Linked DNA regions of Homo sapiens: region 2 is linked to region 1. A link means that fine-mapping ties the variant in region 1 to the expression of a gene that starts in the linked region. Tissue or cell type: whole blood. Region 1 holds a variant in brackets; the other region holds the start of a gene. All regions are shown on one strand. Distances are from middle to middle.

Evidence for each region. PIP is the estimated chance that this variant, and not a neighbour inherited with it, causes the effect.
Region 2: BTD starts here. The variant in region 1 is fine-mapped to the expression of BTD in whole blood (TOPMed, PIP above 0.99). The same link has a PIP of 0.9 or more in blood mononuclear cells.

What each region holds. Positions count from the first base shown.
Region 1 is chr3:15,644,432-15,654,668 of GRCh38, forward strand. It overlaps BTD (biotinidase), which reads left to right. Exons shown (of 4, transcript NM_001370658.1): 4 at 1-9,283. The coding sequence ends at 1,057. Among named protein-coding and RNA genes, the nearest start is that of BTD, 48 kb to the left of the region's middle. RefSeq lists an enhancer at 2,251-2,784 and a silencer at 3,211-3,505. The variant C/T (reference allele first, on the strand shown) is at 3,120.
Region 2 is chr3:15,596,075-15,605,919 of GRCh38, forward strand. It overlaps BTD (biotinidase), which reads left to right and starts at 5,671. Exons shown (of 4, transcript NM_001370658.1): 1 at 5,671-5,820. HACL1 (2-hydroxyacyl-CoA lyase 1) reads right to left here and starts at 5,495. Exons shown (of 17, transcript NM_012260.4): 1 at 5,309-5,495; 2 at 5,016-5,120; 3 at 310-350. The coding sequence starts at 5,389. RefSeq lists an enhancer at 5,400-6,042 and a silencer at 5,884-5,943.

The DNA of each region.
Region 1 (10,237 bases):
CCAGTTCAACACAAATGTCGTGTTCAGCAATAATGGAACCCTTGTTGACCGCTACCGTAAACACAACCTCTACTTTGAGGCAGCATTCGATGTTCCTCTTAAAGTGGATCTCATCACCTTTGATACCCCCTTTGCTGGCAGGTTTGGCATCTTCACATGCTTTGATATATTGTTCTTTGACCCTGCCATCAGAGTCCTCAGAGACTACAAGGTGAAGCATGTTGTGTACCCAACTGCCTGGATGAACCAGCTCCCACTCTTGGCAGCAATTGAGATTCAGAAAGCTTTTGCTGTTGCCTTTGGCATCAACGTTCTGGCAGCTAATGTCCACCACCCAGTTCTGGGGATGACAGGAAGTGGCATACACACCCCTCTGGAGTCCTTTTGGTACCATGACATGGAAAATCCCAAAAGTCACCTTATAATTGCCCAGGTGGCCAAAAATCCAGTGGGTCTCATTGGTGCAGAGAATGCAACAGGTGAAACGGACCCATCCCATAGTAAGTTTTTAAAAATTTTGTCAGGCGATCCGTACTGTGAGAAGGATGCTCAGGAAGTCCACTGTGATGAGGCCACCAAGTGGAACGTGAATGCTCCTCCCACATTTCACTCTGAGATGATGTATGACAATTTCACCCTGGTCCCTGTCTGGGGAAAGGAAGGCTATCTCCACGTCTGTTCCAATGGCCTCTGCTGTTATTTACTTTACGAGAGGCCCACCTTATCCAAAGAGCTGTATGCCCTGGGGGTCTTTGATGGGCTTCACACAGTACATGGCACTTACTACATCCAAGTGTGTGCCCTGGTCAGGTGTGGGGGTCTTGGCTTCGACACCTGTGGACAGGAAATCACAGAGGCCACGGGGATATTTGAGTTTCACCTGTGGGGCAACTTCAGTACTTCCTATATCTTTCCTTTGTTTCTGACCTCAGGGATGACCCTAGAAGTCCCTGACCAGCTTGGCTGGGAGAATGACCACTATTTCCTGAGGAAAAGTAGGCTGTCCTCTGGGCTGGTGACGGCGGCTCTCTATGGGCGCTTGTATGAGAGGGACTAGGAAAAGTGTGTGGTCTGTGGGGCGGACTCTGGCCATCATGTTGACAGCCTTGCACTTCCACAGGCTACAAGCCCTGGGACCATCTTTCTGCCTTAAGGGCAGGAGCCCACTTCTGTGGCACCAGATTCCACCCTGGGAACTGTGGAAAAAGTAGGAGAGGCAGATTCCCTCAGTGTCTTCCTCTTAAACCTCAATCATCGAGACATTAGGGGGTATTTTCTGTTCACATTTATCTTTTTCAAGCCACATCTTCCTCTAACAAATCTCTCAGTATGCGATTGGTCTCAAGCTAAAACAAAAATAAATGTCAGTTTATATTTTACACATCCACAAAGCAGTGGCTTGGGGTTTTTTTTTTTTTTTTTATCTTGTTGATCAAGTGACACCCAGGACATGTAAATATTTCATAAGCCTTAAACATTTCCTGAGGTAAGAAACAAGCTCTCAAAGCAAAAGCTCAATTAGAAATGGCCCTTGTGGGGAACCTTCCCATTCTGGTCGACCAGAACTCTAGCCAGATGAAATGGCAATGCTAGCGCCACCAGCAACGTCAGAAACGTAGACCTTAAAGCGGCTTTTAAAAATAGAAAAGAAGCGTTCCTCACATCTGCCAGTAATGGAATTTTCTGTCAGTAAATGGAATGTGTAGGCAGGACCTGGAATAACTGGAGAGAGTGCAACGCTTCGGGGTGAAGGGCGGGTGGGGACTGGAAATGTTGAGACGGGGGCAGCCATGGGAAGGTATGAGTAATAGAATTCTTTCTGTACGACACAGCTCATCCAGGGATTCCAGGGACCTTAATAAATCACGGTAGCTTTGGGCAAGAGTTGGGCACGTTGCCCGACTGTGCAGGATGGATTGATGCTGGTATAATTTGATCTGGAGCCCTATAGAGGATCTCGTTGCTTTGCAGCGATGCCTGGCACCCCATAGAGATAAGTTGCAGGGACTGCCGTGAAGGGCATGAAGGGTGGCCCACTTTAGTCATGCATTTATTCAATCACCCAACAGGCACAGAGCAGGAGCTTCCCATGTTAGGAATTCCAGATGCAAAATTATCAGACTCAATATGGTGAAGACATTTTTAGGCCACTGATTTCTGTGTAATTTGTGTCCAATATTTCAAAGCCATTTAAAAAAGGATTTTGACTGCATGCCTAGTAGCTGTTTCAGATCATTTTTTAAGTACAGAATGGATAATTAGTCTTCAGTGATTTGCCTCTTAAATGTGGCCATTTAGTTTGAACTCCTTTTTAGTTATTTTAAACAGTATATGCTTAAACATCACACGATTTTATAAAGCAAGAAAAATGAAATGATCTCCCTATTCCCCCACGGTGTAGGCCTCCAGATCCTTTTCTGGCTTTTAGGCAGGACAATTAACAATGTGGATTCTGCAGTCAGACTGATGGGGTTTCCATGCATGGCCTCACCATTAACTCCTCACTGGGGAGACCTTGGGCCTCGGTTTTTTATTCATAGAATGCATGTTGAATAAACCATGTGGGAAAAAGCAGAGCCAGCACCAGCCCCTGCTGACTCACTGATCCCTCGGAAAGGTCTGGGATGAGTCAAGTCTTCAGGGAATAAGCAGCAAGGACTTGGAATTCCTGAGCAAGCCTTGGGTTCCCCACGCCCTAGGAAGTCCCTCTGGAAGGGGAGCAGGACCTCTCCCACCAGATGACGGAGTTCGCTTTCTCGCCCAGCGCAGCTCCCACCAGGCGTGAGCTGGCAGTCCAGAAGCGGCCCCAGATGTGGCTACCCACCGCCCAGTCTGCTTCCCTGCCTCAAACCCCAGGGAGACAGAAATTACCTAAAAATGCATATCATTGCCTTATGCCAAGATGATTCAAATAAGCCTGAGAAAGAGAGGCCAGCGCTAAATACAGACTTGGCAGAACTACTTCACCCAGTAAACATCTAATCAGCACCTGCAGGATCCTCATTCTGCCCTTCTGGGCAGAGCACCACGAACTTTCCCTGAGTTATTTTCTACCAACAATTTAGAATGAATTGCTCGTGAAGTAGAAATGAGGGGAAAAGCAACTAATGGTGGTAGAA[C/T]AAAGTAATTTTTACAATTAAAAGAAGTAGCTGCCAGATGACAGAACAAAGTAGAGGACGGGAAAATAAATCATTTTCAGGGAAAAAATATATCTATGACTAATGGTTGTGATTATGTTTTTGTCGATTGTGATCCTGAAACTCAGGAAGCAAATGGCAATCTTGACCACAACATGGAGACAGGAAATCAAATGCATTTTTGGCTAAACCAGACTTGGGGGAAGTGGCTTGGTTTGCGTGGTTTCTCATGTAGGTGCAGCTGTGCTTTTCTGTGGTTTTTCTCACACGGGAAGTGAGAGGCACAGTGAGCTGTATTCACACTGGATTTAAAAGCCCTGTTCTTAGAGAGGAAAAAACCAGGCCTCCTCACAGACTGCCAAGTCCCAGAGCCCACCATGTCTGCTCTCAAGACACAGGCCTGTCCAGAGCCCCTGCTGAGGGAAACCCACCCAGGCCACTTTTCCCCACAGGTGGCCCTGCTTGGTACCTGTGCCCCCACCCCCCAGCCATGGTATATTGAACCAGGAGGAGGCACCCAGCCCAAGGCCAGCCAATCAGAGCACTGGCTAGTAGCCCAGGAGGTGTCCCTGCACAGAAGATCTCCTCAGAGAGGACCGATGGTGAGTCGGCCGCTCTTGATTCTCAATGAAACTCAGAACCGCTCAAGTGAAATGACCACTCAAAGAACAATTTCTCAACAAAGTGGATTTATATAGGACAAAATAGGCATAAAAGTATGAAATGTTTTGTGCACAAAGGCCTAGATTTGAGACAAGAGCTGATGTGGCCTGAAGATCTGTGAGTGGGACTGCTTGGGAGGCCATGTTCCTTCTCAGGCCAGAGAAAGGTCCTGGTCTCCTGGCTTCAGTCTTTCATTCCCTAACCTCCCTTTGAATGTTAGTTACCTATTCCCACATAACAAAGTGCCCCAAAACTTAATGGCATAAAACAAGCATGGACATTGTTAGTTCACCCAGTTCTGTGGGGCAGGAAAGCGGGTCTCTCATGAGGCTACAGTCAAGATGTCAGCCGAGGTGACAGTGAAGATATCAACCAAGGCTGCAGCCGGTTGAAGGCCTCACTGGATTTGGAGAATATTATTGATTAAATTGCGTCTTCCCCAAAAAAGATACGTTGTAGTCCTAACCCCCAATAGCTCAGAATGTGGCCTTATTTGGAAATAGGGTCTTTGCAGATGCAATGAAGATATAAGTTAAAATGAGATCACACTAGAGTAACTGGGCCCTTAATCCAATATGACATGTCCTTATCAGAAGAGGAGAAGACACACACACAGGGAGAAGATGACCATGTGACAACAGGGGCAGAGATCACAGGGATGCCTCTACTAGACAAGGCACACCAGAAATTGCTTGCCAACAAACACCAGAAATTAGAAGAGGCAAGAAACAACTCCCCACACACAACCCACCCCTGCAGGTTTCAGAAGAAGCATGGCTCTGCCAACACCTTGATTTTGGATTTCCAGCTTCCACAACTATGAGACAATAAGTTTCTGTTGTTTGAAGCCACCCAGTTCAGGGTACTTTGATATGGCAGACCTAGGAAACAAATACAGAGGATCACTTGCAAAATGGCCCATTCACACAGCTGGCACGTTGGTGCTGGCTGCTAGCAAAAGGTCTCAGCTCCTCACCACTTGGGTCTTTCCATAGGGATAGCTGAGTGTCCTCATGATGTGGCCCCTGGCTTCCCCTGAAGCAAATGATCCAAGAGAGCACAGGTGGAGCCATGATGTCTTTTATTAACTAGTCTCAGAAGTCACACTGCATCATTTGGCACCATCTTATTGAGTTACACAGGTCAGCCCTGCTCCCTATGGAAAGAGACAGAGGGTGTTAGATGCCCAGAGGTGAACCTCATTGGGTACCATCCTGCAGGTGGGCTGCCACTCTGCTCAATCCAAATCACAGCTCTCCCGTTTCTCACCTCCCAACAGTTGCTGTTCCTCAGGCCAAAGTTCACATTCTGCACAGCCTCAGCTCCGCCTGACCTCTGAGCTCACATGATGGCCCTTACTGTGAACCTGGGTTTCTGGTCCAGCCATAGCTACTTCTTTAAGCTCCTCCAGTGTGCTGAGCACAGTCTGGCCCCTGTACTGTTGTCTGCTTGAAATGGCGTCTTCTGATGAACACTCATCCATCCTTCAAGGTCTACTCTCTCATCACAGCTTGTGACTCTTCCACTTTTTGAACTGGTGTTTCCCATTCCCAGTTCACAGAGCCCTTTCTCATTGAACTATTTATCTGAGTTCCCTCTGCCGGAACATGAGCCATGCCTAGAGTAGCCACCTAGTAGTGAGTGACAGCTCTGTGCTGGATGCACATAAATGGTCTCCCTTAACTGCCATGAGCCCTAAAGAAGGTTTGCTACAGCTATTTTACAGATGGGGAAAACTGACAGAGAGATATTAATGAATTGCCCACATGCAAATATGTGCTGAGTCTTGGATTTGCATCTTTATCGTGACTCCACGGAGACCCACCCTCTAAGACCAGAGCCAGTGTCCTATTCATCTTTTGTCTCTGCAGCGTTCAGCATGGCACTGTCTTGGCTTACAAAATCTGCTCTATGCTTGCTGACTGCTGAATGAATGAATGAATGAATAGGTAGTCACAAAGAATGTTTAGAATGTTTCTCAGACAGGCTGAGAAAAAACACAACGAAACATTATTTCCGTTTGGAAAGTTTTTTTATTTTTGTGTTCAGTACTGAAGTAAAACAAAAATCTGAATAACAGCTGCACCGTTAAAAATGAAATTACCAATATATGAACTCTAGGCATCATGCATATATAATTTTTTGTAGATAACTTTTCTTCTCATTTTCCTTCTCATTCTCTTCATCTTTTTCTTTTTGTTTGAGCAAAAAAAAAAAAGAATATATTAACTCGTAACTGGGGAGTCTAAGAATAAATTCTCTTCAGCCATTGCTGAATCTAGGGGCTCAAATGGTGTCTCTGGACACAGTATCACACTCTACTCTGCACTCTTCTTTATCATTTTCTCCCACAGACAGACTCTCGTGTAGTTGCAACAATGGCCATGACTTCTAGGCTTCATCTGCCCCTCTCAGCAGCTCTAGAGAAGAAGCTCCTCTTTTTACACAGTCCCTAATTAAAGTCTCAGAGATGAACAACCTGGGCTCTTGCTTAGGGCACGTGCCCATCCTGAATCAATGATCGGCCAGAGAGCTGTGATATTCTTTTGTTTTTTTGAGATGGAGTCTTGCTCTGTCGCCCGGGCAGGAGTGCAATGGCATGATCTCGGCTCACTGCAAGCTCTGCCTCCCGAGTTCAAGCGATTCTCCTGCCTCAGCCTTCCGAGTAGCTGGGACTACAGGCACGTGCCACCACGCCCAGCTAATTTTTTGTATTTTTATAGAGACAGGGTTTCACCATGTTAGCCAGGATGGCCTCGATCTCCTGACCTCATGATCTGCCTGCCTCAGCCTCCCAAAGTGCTGGGATTACAGGCGTGAGCCACCGTACCCGGCCAGGGCTGTGATATTCTGATCAGCCAGCACTGAGTCACATGGCCACTATTAGGGTGAGGGATGATAGGCTTAGCTCTGACCTGAAATTCATGGATTGAGGGGTGGGGACTGTTTCCCAGGGGAACACTGGGACAGCGTTACCAGGGGAAGGGGAGTGGGATATAGTTGGGCCAAAACAGTAAATGTCCACGAGGCTTTTTTCCTCTGAGCAGAAATTTCACTGTGATGCCAGTCAGGTATTGCTGCCGTAAGGGCCATAGCAGGAGGGAGACTGCAAATCTTGATTGAGGAGATCTTAAGAACAGAGTGATTTACACAGCTGTGGGCAGGATGTAGGGGAACCCAGAAAGGATAATGCACTACCCAGCGGCCAGCGACAGCAGGAGCTATGAGCACCCCAGGCCTGAAGGTGTGAAGGGCTGAAATGGTTACCAGAAGCAGGAGAGGGAAGCTTATGGAGAGAGCAGGCTGGCGGGAGCAGGGGCTGTGAGAGAGACAGCCAGACCGTAGCGGTGTGACAGGCAGAGAGCCAGGCGATCCATATCCTGTCTCCTCTCTCTTCTCCGCTCCTGACTCCTGCTGCGGCCTCCCACTGGCTGGACCCAACAGGAAAGCAGAGGATAAGAGAATCTGGTTGGTGCTATCTAGAAGTCAGTGTTGGGGAGGTCACAGAACAGAATGGAGAGGGGTAGAGTATGCAGGGAAGATAAATGCAGCCCTGGCATGGTTCTTCCAGAACATTCTGCAAGCTCATGGACCAGTTCATTTGAGAAGAAATAGAGGAGTTAGGGGAGAGAGAAGCTTCTTAATGAAAATAACCTTGGTAGCTAGTCTCAAGATTAGCCCCCAGTGCTCCCCACCTGCTGGTATCCGTTGTACAACACTTCCCACATTTTTCTGGGGTCGTTTTGTGTAACCAATAAAATATGGCAGATGCGATGGCATGTTACTTCTGAAATTGGGTTATAAAAGGTACTGCAGACCGGGCACGGTGGCTTACGCCTGTAATCCCAGCACTTTGGGAGGCCAAGCCTGGCGGATCACAAGGTTAGGAGTTCAAGACCAGTCTGGCCAATATGGTGAAACCCTGTCTCTATTGAAAATACAAAAATTAGCCGGCATGGTGGCACACGCCTGTAGTCCCAGCTAGTCGGGAGGCTGAGGCAGAAGAATCGCTTGAACCCGGGAGGCGGAGGTTACAATGAGCTGAGATAGCACCACTGCACTCCAGTCTGGGCAACAGAGCGACACTCCGTCTCCAAAAAAAAAAGATACTGCAGCTTCTATCTTGGTTGCTCACTTGCTATCTTGGGTCCCTCCCTCTGGGGAAAGCCAGTTGCCATCTCCCAAGGATCCCTATGGACAGACCCATTTGGCAAGGAACAGCCACCAGCTAGCTGCATGAGCGAGCCATGTTGGAAGTGGGTCCTCCAGCTGCAGTCAAGCTTCCAGATGACCACTGCCCTGGGAAACGACTGCAACCTCATGAGAGACCCTGAGCCGGAACCACCCCACAAAGTCACTCTTGATTTCCTAAGTCTCAGAAACTATAAAATATAAATGTGTGTTGTTTTAAAATCCTAGGTTTTGAGGTAATTTATTATACAGCAATAGAAAACTAATACAATAGTCTTGCTACCAGCACCTTAATCTCCCACATCCAAGTTAAAATTCATCCAACACTCAATCTCCCAGCTATCCTGACTGCTCCTATACAGGTATCTCTCCCACTATATATATATCAAGTGCTATTAGTGGCTATTATTTGTTGGGTTACACAAAGCCAGAAATCATCTACATCTACTCTCTTTTCTTCTGGTTTTGAATAGCAAAATGCAACAGGGAGATGTTCTCAGATAGAGGGAGAACAACAAAAAGAAGGGTCCATGCTGAACAAACTTGTTTGCTTTGAAATCGGAAGTTCTAGAGGAGGTATTCTGACAGTGGCCAGGAAAACCTCCTGCCCGCAGAATTTTGTCTAATCCACCCCAGACAGAGTTATCCAACAGCCTGGTATGGTGCAGACCAGGGGCTCTCGAAAGGTGGGCTCCAGGCAGCAGCACCAGTAGCACCTGGGAAATTGTTGGAAATGCAAATTCTTGGGCTCCACCCCAGATCAACTTAATCGGACTCTCTGGGAGTAGGGCCCATCAATCTGTGTTTAACAAGTCCTCCAGGTGATTCCGATCCTAATCAAGTGTGAGCCCACTGTCTAATGCGGTGCATACCAAAGCAGGTGCACGGGTCTTAATCATCACCTCAGTCCTCTGAAACAGGCAAGTGTGTCCATTTTACAGAAGAAGGAACTAAGGCCTGGAAGGCAAGTCCTTGCCTGAGACTAAACAGAATCCCAGCAACATAGGACGAGGCTGGAATTCCCACACCTGGACTAATGCACAGCCAGTGTTTCAACGTCGCCAACCCAGAAATGTTTTCTCTCCCTGTCATGCTAATTTTCAGCCCTTTCTGGGTGACTTGTTCATCATCCAAATATATTATTTTTGTTTTGTTTGACTAAAGGCAATTATATTTACATTTTCTCTAAGTACTGGAATGTAATGGTTGAAATTCCTATTCAGTGATCTGGAAGAACTCTAATGTTCTAAAGTGATTCTTTGATAATTAAAGAAAGATGTAATTATGTATAATGTGATTTGTAAGATAAGGTATAACTTTGGGGGTGTTCTAATTCTTTAAAAATTGTTGATCCGACTATGGATGTCTTGCAACTCTCAAAAAATCACGTGTGAAAGTTAAGCATTAGTTCCGTGTAAAATACTGTGCTAGAAATTGTGGAGGATGCAAAGTCACATAAGACTGTTACTGTTTTTTAAAATTTATTTTTTAAAATAGAGACAGGGTTTCTCCATATTGGCCAGGCTGAATCTCAAGTGATCTGCCTGCTTTGGCCTCCCAAAGTGTTGGGATTACAGGCGTGAGCCACTGCGCCCGGCCAAGACTGTTACCTTTAGCGAGAGCTTATTATCACCTAGTGTTCATATAAACATGGGATTTAAATACACACACAACCCCCAAAACAAATTGCTAAAAGATATTTGTGCAGATTTTATTTTTCCAAATGGCTACAACAGTATTTGAAGAACTAACAAGTTTAAAAATGTAAAAGGCCAGTAAGGCAACATTGGGCACTGGGGCAAGTGAAGGGGAGGGAAGGAGCATGGAGTCAGGGGAGAGGGCATTGGCTGGTTCTGCAGGCTCTGCAGGCTGGGGGAAGAGTTAGGGTTTATGTGGGCAGACAGCATTGCAGGGGATTAGGCAGGGGAATAACATGGTCATTTAAAATGATTCTTCTGGCTGATGACAGGTTTTCAGATGCTTCACCTCCTCCTAAGTCAGTCACACCTCATATCCAAGCCATGAGGACTCACTGAGGGGAATGTAATAAATAGCTATTTAAGGGAAAAATAACAATTAAAAAATCTATAATAGCAGTTTAAGGGACAAAAACCAAAACATTTCTTTGGAATTATTCATGTTAAGCTTAACATTTTCTAATATAGTCCTGCATCCTTTTTTTTGTTTTTGAGATGAAGTCTCACTCTGTGGCAATCTTGGCTCACTGCACCCTCTGCCTCCCGGGT
Region 2 (9,845 bases), 49 kb before region 1:
TGAACCAAGCATTTTTGTATTAAGTGTGCTGGGGTAGTTGTGAGATCCAAGACAAGGTATCATACATCAACTCACTATCTGATCACCAGTGATTCACTCTACAAAATGGCAATGTGTTCCACTCTGAAACACTTCTGGTATCATTATTCTTTTGATGTGGTCCTCAGAGAGTTTTAAATGTTTTTTATCCTTTGTTATTTAATATATTTTTCTATAATCTTTCCAAATGAACTCATCCTTCAGCTGAAAGACGTAATAGTTCTACCCCAAAATATTAAAGTAATTGAAGTGAAACAAATTTTAGTTTACCTGCTTGTCAGATATCCAATCGCGGAGGCAGCATAACAAGCCTACGAGAAAACAACACTGGGACTTGAGCATATTGGGATCCTTATAGTACATTTATGACAGCAACTTACTATTAAATAATAGACAAGAACATAGTGGTAAAGGCAGAATTAAAATATTTCCAACCTTAGTAATAAATGTTCTACACATAAATTTCAAATAATGGTTATCTAAATTTTAGTTTTTCAGGAAATTTGTTCATATGTATGTTATTCAAAACATCCTCTTACAATTGCTTAAATATCTGCAGGATCAATAGGAATGTCCTCTTTTATTAACAATATTGGTAATTTGTTTTCTTTCTTTTATTCTTCATCAGTCTCATGAGGGGTTTATCAAATTTATCCATCTTTTCAAAGAACAAATTTTTTTAGTTCTTCGAAAATTTTTGTTGGTTTTTCTCTATTGTTTGTTTTCTATTTCATTGATTTCTGTTCTTGTATTTATTATTTCAGTCATTTTGAATTTGATTTGCTTTTCTTTTTCTAGCTTCTTAAAATACAAATTTAGAACACTGGTTTTTAATTTTCTTTACTAATAATTTGTTTAAAATGATTCCAAGAACTGCTTTAGTTATAGGTTACAAGTTTGAGTTGCATCTTTTCATTATCATTCTATTCAAAATATTTTCTACTTTCCATTGTGATTTCTTCTTCAACCCATTGGTTAATTAGGATCTGTAGTGATACCTCCTTTTTCATTCCTGACATTGGTAATCTGTTTTCTCTTTTATTCTCAATCAGTCTATCTTGAAGTTTATTCATTTTGTTAATCTTTTCAAATATTTACAAAATACCAAAAAGTATGTTGCTTAATTTCCAAAGGTCTGAGATTCTTTTTAGTGATCTCTTATTGAGTTCCACTTTACTTCCACATGGTCAGGTGACATATACTGCACGCTTTCAATCCTTGGCGATTTATTGAGATTTCCTTTATGGCCTGCATATGGATAGTTTTTACCTTGTAACTCTACTTCAGCTCATAATCAGGAAGAGAGGGGGCACTAAATTAAATGCACACAAGATAACCTGGGAAAATGCTGAGTGCTCTCTCAAATTCTTCTTAGTCTGGGACATCATTTTTTTCCCAGTATTATTTCTTCTCATTTCTTTAGAAATAATAATGAATTGCGTATTTCCTAGCCTTCATTCAGCTTTAAATGAAGTAGTATACTGTCTTAAAGAACTCCACATTAACGACATAAATGTGGAAAAAAAAAAAAAGGAAATGTTTATGGATCATAATCTTAACTGGCTCTACTATCATACACCCACTGAGAACCTGCACAAAGACTCTGCTCTTTTCCTGTGTCGCTATTCTCTACTGGCCCCATCTCTCTTTCCTTTTGCACATAAGGCCAAATTCACATTAGGAGAATAAGACAACTCCTAAGAAATGCAGGCATGTAAATACCTGCTGCAATAAGAACACTTTATTTAGACACCCAAAAGAATTGCCCACTTATGATAGCTAGGTAAGAAATGTTGCTAGGCAATGCAAAATATACAACAACACGTAACAAAAAGTATATTCCTCTGGTAGGAAATGTCAAAAGTTGAGAGGTAACTGTTTTGTTTTGTTTTATTTTGTTTTGTTTTGTTTTTTTTTTTTGAGACAGAGTTTCGGAGTTTCGCTCTTGTTGCCCAGGCTGGAGTGCAATGATGCAATATTGGCTCACGGCAACCTCCACCTCCCAGGTTCAAGCAATTCTCCTGCCTCAGCTTCCCGAGCAGCTGGCATTACAAACATGCACCACCACGCCTGGCTAATTTTATATTTTTAGAAACGGGGTTTCTCCATGTTGGTCAGGCTGGTCTCAAACTCCTGACCTCAGGTGATCTGCCTGCCTCAGCCTCCCAAAGTGCTGGGATTACAGGCGTGAGCCACCGCGCCTGGCCATAACTGGTTTTATGACCATAAAAGATCTGTTCCTCTACTAAACTACCTCCATTCACAGGCAGAACAGTGTACATGGTACTTAGAGAGTGGACTCTCGAGCCAATCTGTTTTGATTTAAATCCCAGCTTCCCCACTTTCTACTGTGTAATTTTGGCAAGTTGCTCTAAATCTCTGTTTCTTCATCTATAAAATGAAAATAATTCAAAGCACTGCTGTGAGGATGAAATCAGTTCGTATGTGTAAAACACTCAAAATAGTGCCCACACACAGTAAGCTCTCAAGAACAATGAACTTGCTGACAATCTGCCTACTTGCTGGCCAATTGGTCAGTATGTCTTGATTACTCTATGGATCTAATCAAAGACAATGAAGTCACACCCAACTACATCTTTCTCTTTATCACAAACATGTCCTGAATGCCTTAGCCTGTTTTCATGTTCCCTCTGAATCATTCTGTCACTACCCTTAGTTCAGGTACCATTTAAGTCTTCCTTTGACTACCATAGAGTCAGGATGCTTGAGGGACATATGCACTGGGATGTTCCACCAACATCTCAAATGCATGTGTTCAAAATTGAACATCACCTTTCTCCTCCAAGCTGGCTCTTCCCTCTATATTCCCAGTCTCAGTCACAGACAATATGATCTACACAATCAATCAAGTAAGCCCAAAATCTAGGAATCATCTCCAGAGGAGCCTGCCTCCTCTTTCCTAACTGGTTAATGCCTGCTTATCCTTCAGGACAGCTCAGACATCATCTCCTGTGGGAAGCTGAGCCTGGGTACTCCTTCTCTGGGCTTTATAGCACCCTGGATATCTCTCTATCACAGCACTTACCACCTTATAATACAATTGTCTGTGTCTGTCTCCACAGCTTGGCTGTAAGCCCCTTAAAGCCAGGAACTATCATTCATCTCTGTATCCAGCACCCAACACAGCACATGGGACCTAAAGAACCCTCAACTAAGCTTATAGGGGCTGAAATAAAACTTAGAGACAGAGGTCGTGCTATGTTGCCCAGGCAGCCTCTAATTCCTGGACTTGAGTAATCCTCCTGCCTCAGCCCCCTTCGTAGCTGGGATTACTGGCATGTACAACCATGCCTCGCATCATCTTTCTGAAGTACAAATCTAATTACATCGCCCACCTGTTTAGAAAAACCTTTAGTCTCCCCCATTGCCTACTGTTAAAAAAAAAAAAAAATTCAAACTCTTTTTAGATTTCCCACAACCTCCCCTCAACCTACCTACCAGTCTCACAGCTCACCATGCCTTTACCTACCTTGAGGGAACCACATGAACTAACATTACCTCTACAGGCAATCTTCTCTGTCCTCAAAGAGAACCAGTCACCCCTTCTGTGCTACTACATCTATTGTGAGAGTTATAATAGATGAGTCTTTTTCTGTAAGTCTTACCCTCACCTTCCAGGACTGATCAACGTGAAGATCAAGACTAAACCTCACTCCTTCTTTACATCCCTCTCTCCTACAGGTTATGTAGCACAATCCTTAGTATACAGTACTTAGTCAATAAATGTTTGCTGTATGAAGAAATCAGTGGCAGATATGTCATCTCTACAAAAACAGTTAAGTATAGGTTCCATTCATAGGTCAATAGCTTCATTTTTTCACACAGATGAAAGAACAGAATGTTGTTCTAACAAAGACAAGTAAAATGTAGAAGCAACAGAAACTCAAAACCTCCTAGTTTTAAGATTAAAAAATACAAATCTCAAACCTTGTAGATAAAGAATGTCATTCAATAAAGAATGTCATTCAATAAAGAATGTCATTCAATTAATAAATAATGTATAATATTAAGCATCTACACCACGTGAAAGCACAAACCAAGCCAGGCACTGTGGTGATATAACAAATGAATCACAACTTCTGCCCTCCAGGCACTCATGTATGATGGCAAAAGGCACCACTTAGGGTGGCCAGGCAGTTGTTTGGGCAAGAGGAGGCAAGAATTTAAATTAGAAGGCAACGGTGGGAGTGTAAAGCAGGAATATTTAGCCTCAGCTGGACTGAGAGTATGTGATATCACAGAAGTGGATTCTTGACCTTTCAAGCCCGCACTACTGAGAGAAGAGCAAGGTGGATTGGCAGAGGATGCACTTAAAGTGGATTGACAAAACGTCGTATCTTCCTTATCCTGCTTCCAAATAAGCCTCTAAGAAAGGTGGCAGCATGATGTGGTGGAAAAAGCATCAGGCTAGGATCTGAGCCATCTGAGTTTCCATCAAGGCACTACCATTTGTGATATCCTCCACCCTGCCCCGAACCAATCATACAACAAAGCCTTGGCCTTCACTCATTTATCCCACAGGTAATCTCTGAACACCTTTCTTATGCAGGCACCACACTAAGCACTGGGGGTACAGATGTGTCGTGAAGAAATAATATCCCTGCTCTAATGGAGCTTGTAGCCTAATAGGGAAGTCAGACTTTACTCATAAACTGTCCATTCCAATCATGACATACAGTATAGTAGTAAGAGAATGGACTCAGACCCAGAATACGTGGGTTCAAACCCTGGCTCTGCTACTACCAGCTGTGTCACCAAAGGCAAGTTTTACTTAACCTGTGTCTTTTCTCATCTGTCAACTTGGTGTAACAACAGTTAATATTCAACAGTGATTGATATGATATATGTAAAGTAGCAGAAGAGTGGTAAGCGCTATCTGGGTGTTTGCAATGCATACCTACCGCTATTACTGATCATTCCCAGTAACGCATTCAGCCACCTGAGTCCATACTCACCGCTTGCTCATTCCTCATCCCGATGTACTTGATGCCTAGCTGCTGGGCAGCAATGGCGATTTCGGTCACTGGGATGCCTACGATGCCAAATATGTACTCCACATCCTGAGGAACGAAGAACAGGGGAGTAAACTCCCAAGGCCCCACCATATCGCCACATCCTTCCCTCCCTCCCGGGCGCTAAAAGGAAAACCCCCCGACCCCCATCGCCCATTTCTACTCGTCTCCAAGACAACATCGCGGTCCCCGCCAGCTTCCGTAGGAGCCTTTCATTCCAGGAAGGTCCATCGTACTTGCGTTTTCAGGGCCTGAGCGATGACTTTAGCACCAGACACCTGCTCCTCGCTGCGCTCTGCGAAGTTACTGTCCGGCATCTTCCACCGAAAAGCTCTAAGCACTCACGCAGCCGGCAAACAAGCGGAATCATCCAGCAAGGCAAACGCGAAATCGGCAGCACGCCACCTCTGGTACTGCACCTCTGACGGACAGGAGGGCAACCAACTGCCTTAAACAACGGGAAGGAAGAGGCGGTCTAAATTCGTCCACTTCCCGGGAGAGGTGAGAATGTAAACACGCGCGTTCTCCAATCAGAACTGCGCTCTCTTCTCGGCTCCTCCATTCGCGCGCCAGAATGCCAGAGGGAGGCGGGACTAGCAGGAGATTGCTGCCTATGCAAAGCAGGTAAGAAGCCGAACTCTGAGGCCTCTCGCCATTGTCTCCGAGTCGGCCAGCTGGAGCGTTTTCGGGGCTGTAAAGGGAGAATGGCGCATGCGCATATTCAGGGCGGAAGGCGCGCTAAGAGCAGGTACGGAGGGGGCGTGGTGCGGCGCGGAGGGGGTGTGGTAAGGGCGTGCGGTCCAGACCCCGCCCCGGGCGCCCAGTTGGACTTGGGGAGGGCTGCGCAAAGGCTGCCGGGAGCTGGGAAGCCCGGCGCGCGTCGTTTGCTGGGGCTGTTTGTGCGTTGCTGCTGTGCTACCGCGTTGCGTTTTCTAGGCATTTACTTACACGCTTTGTGGTTTACGCTCTCATAACCTTGTGGTTTTATAGTCCTTAAATTATTGTAGCGCACGTTACTTAAATCCAGAAGCAGATGTGTACCCCAGCAAGAGATAAAATGACGCTCAGAGTCAGTAGATCCAGACCGTGCCTGAGATCCTGAATCCTGTTTCCTACCCACTATTCAGCCATTGGGTCACAAGCGATGAAAAGAGCACCTTGAAGGTAGTATAGAGCACTGTTTTCTCCAGCCCTTGCTACTAATCCATATTACTCTCCGCTAATATCTTTCCAAAATTAGGAACTATGGCGTTTCATAATTCTTAGGTTGGGTCCCTACCTACAACCAGCCCTGCACCCGATAGCCTTTTAAAACATTTTTGTGTGAAAATCGTTTGCAATGTGCAATATCTGAAACTACTGCCTTGGAGTCATTAGACCCTCTGCTCAGTGACAATAAACATAAAATTTCCAATTGTAATAAACAGTGGAACTTTTAATTTTTTGAGGATTTGGAGTCATTTTAAGCAAAAAGAACAGTGATAAGTGGACAGTAAAGAGATGAGAGGGGAGTGGGTCATGGGTAGTGAAATGAGTGAGAAGCACTGGAAGTGAAACGATTTCTAAACCCAGACATTTTCAAACTGTAGTCCTGGGTCTTTTCAAAAGGTCTTCCCCTCTTTTTCTCAACCCCTCAACCCCACCCCAAGCAGAGGAGAGTGAAGTGGTTGCCTCCCTGCATATGTGGACGGTGTTAGTCCATTTTCATACTGCTATAAAGAAATACCCAAAACTGGGTAATTTATAAAGAAAAAGAGGTTTAATGGTCTCACAGTTCCAAATGGCTACGGAGGCCTCACAATCATGGCAGAAGGTGAAGGAGGAGCAAAGGCATGTCTTACATGGTGGCAGGCAAGAGAGCGTGTGCAGGGGAACTGCCCTTTATAAAACCATCAGATCTCATGAGACTTACTATCATTAGAACAGCATGGGAAAAATCCCCTCCCCATGATTCAGTTACTTCCCACTGGGTCCCTCTCACCACATGTGGGGATTATGGGAGCTATAATTCAAGATGAGATTTGGATGAGGACACAGCCAAACTGTTCTGCCCCTGGCCCCTCCCAAATATCATATCCTCACATTTCAAAACCAATCATGCCTTCCCAACAGTCCCCCAAAGTCTTAACTCATTTCAGCATTAACTCGAAAGTCCACAGTCCAGAGTTTCATCTGAGACAAGGCAAGTCCCTTCCGCCTATGAGCCTGTAAAATCAAAAGCAAGCTAGTGGCTGGGCGCAGTGGCTCACACCTGTAATCCCAGCACTTTGGGAGGCCGAGGCGGGCGGATCATGAGGTCAAGAGATGGAGACCATCCTGGTCAACACGGTGAAACCCTATCTCTACTAAAAATACAAAAAATTAGGCGGGCATGGTGGCAGGCGCCTGTAATCCCAGCTACTCAGGAGGCTGAGGCAGGAGAATGGTGTGAACCCGGGAGGCAGAGCTTGCAGTGAGCTGAGATTGGGCCACTGCACTCCAGCCTGGGGGACAGATCGAGACTCCGTCTCAAAAAAAATAATAAAATTAAATTTAAAAATAAATAAATAAAAGCAAGATAGTTACTTCCTAGATACAATGGGTGCACGGGAGTGAGGTAAATATACCCGTTCCAAATGGGAGAAATTGGTCAAGACAAAGGGGCTAAAGCCCCCATGCAAGTTCAAAATCTGGCAGGGCAGTCAAATATTAAAGCTCCAAAATGATCTTTGGATCATTTTGACTTCGTATCTCACAGCCAGATCATGCTGATGCAAGAGGTGGGCTCCCACAGCCTTGGGCAGCTCTGCCCTTGTGGTTTTACAGGCTACAACCCCCTCTCCCAGCTGCTTTCACAGGCTAATATTGAGTGTGTGCAGCTTTTCTAGGCACATGGTGCAAGTGGTCAGTAGATCTACCATTCTGGGGTCTGGAGGACGGTGGCCCTCTTCTCACAGTTCCACCAGCAGTGCCCCAGGAGGGACTCTGTATGGGGGCTCCCACCCCACATTTCCCTTCCACACTGCCCTAGCAGAGGTTCTCTATGAGGGCTCTACCCCTGCAACAAGCTTCTGCCTGGACATCCAGGCATTTCCATACATCCTCTGAAATCTAGGCAGAGGTTCCCAAACCTCAATTTTTGACTTCTGTGCACCTGCAGGCTCAACACCATGTGGAAGCTGCCAAGGCTTCAGGCTTGCACTGTCTGAAGCCAGGCCTGAGCTGTACATTGGCCCTTTTTAGCCATGGCTGGCATGGCTGGGATGCAGGACACCAAGTCCCTAGGCTGCAAACAGCAGGGGGACCCTGGACCTGACCCATGAAACCATTTTTCCTCCTAGGTTTCTGGGCCTGTGATGGGAGGGCCTGTTGTGAAGGTCTCTGACATGCCCTGGAGACATTTTCCCCATTGTCTTGGTGATTAATAGTTAGCTTCTTATTACCTATGCAAATTTCTGCTGCCAGCTTGAATTTCTCCCTAGAAAATGGGTTTTTATTTTCTACTGCATCGTCAGTCTGCAGATTTTTCAAATTTGTATGCTCTGCTTCCTCTGGAACACTTTGCCATTTAGAAATTTCTTCTGCCAGATACCCTAAATCATCTCTCTCAAGTTCAAAGTTCCACAGATCTCTAGGACAGGGGCAAAATGCCACTAGTCTCTTTGCATAGCAAGAGTGACCTTTACTCCAACTCTGAATAAGTTCCTCATCTCCATCAGAAACCACTTCAGCCTGAATTTTATTGTCCATATCACTATCAGCATTTTGGTCAAAGCCATTCAATAAGTCTCTAGGAGGTTCCAAACTTTCCCACATTTTCCTGTCTTCTGAGCCCTCCAAGTCTCTAGGAAGTTCCAGACTTTCCCACATTTTCCTATCTTCTTCTGAGCCCTCCAAACTGTTCCAACTTCTGCCAGTTACCCAGTTCCAAAGTTATTTCCACAGTTTCGGCTGTCTTTACAGTAGTGCCCCACTCTCTGCATTACCAATTTTCTGTGTTAGTCCCTTTTCATACTGCTATGAAGAAATACTCAAAACTGGGTAATTTATAAAGAAAAAGAGGTTTAATAGATTCACAGTTCCACATGGCTGGAGAGACGTCACAATCATGGTGGAAGATGAAGGAGGAGCAAAGGCACGTCTTACATGGCGACAGGCAAGAGAGTGTGTGCAGGGAAACTCCCATTTATAAAACCATCACAGCTTGAGACTTATTTGCTATCACAAGAACAGCATGGGAAAAACCCTCCCCAATGATTCAGTTACCTCCCACCAGGTACCGCTCATGATATGTAGGGATTATGGGAGCTATAATTCAAGATGAGATTTGAGTGGGGACATAACCAAACCATATCAGGGACCCATCTCAGAGGGTGACTTCTTTCAAGTCTCAGAGTGTATCTAAAAAGAAAATGCAGATTTTGTATTATACTCTAGAATGTATCCATATTTTAATTTTAAAATGACATTTATTGAGATATAATAAAGATACAATTCAATGTCCAGATTTTAAATGTTAGATGAGTTTTGACAGTTATATATATATATATCTATGAAATCACCACCCAAAATAAAAATGACATTTTAAACTGCTTACCTGTCAAGTAAAATTGACATTCCAGAAAGATGTGAAACGGGCTGGGCACAATGGCTCATGCCTGTAATCCCAGCACTTTGGGAGGCCGAGGTGGGCAGATCATCTGAGGTCAGGAGTTCGAGGCCAGCCTGGCCAATGTGGTGAAACCCCATCTCTGCTAAAATACAAAAATTATCCAGGTGTGGTGGCACATGCCT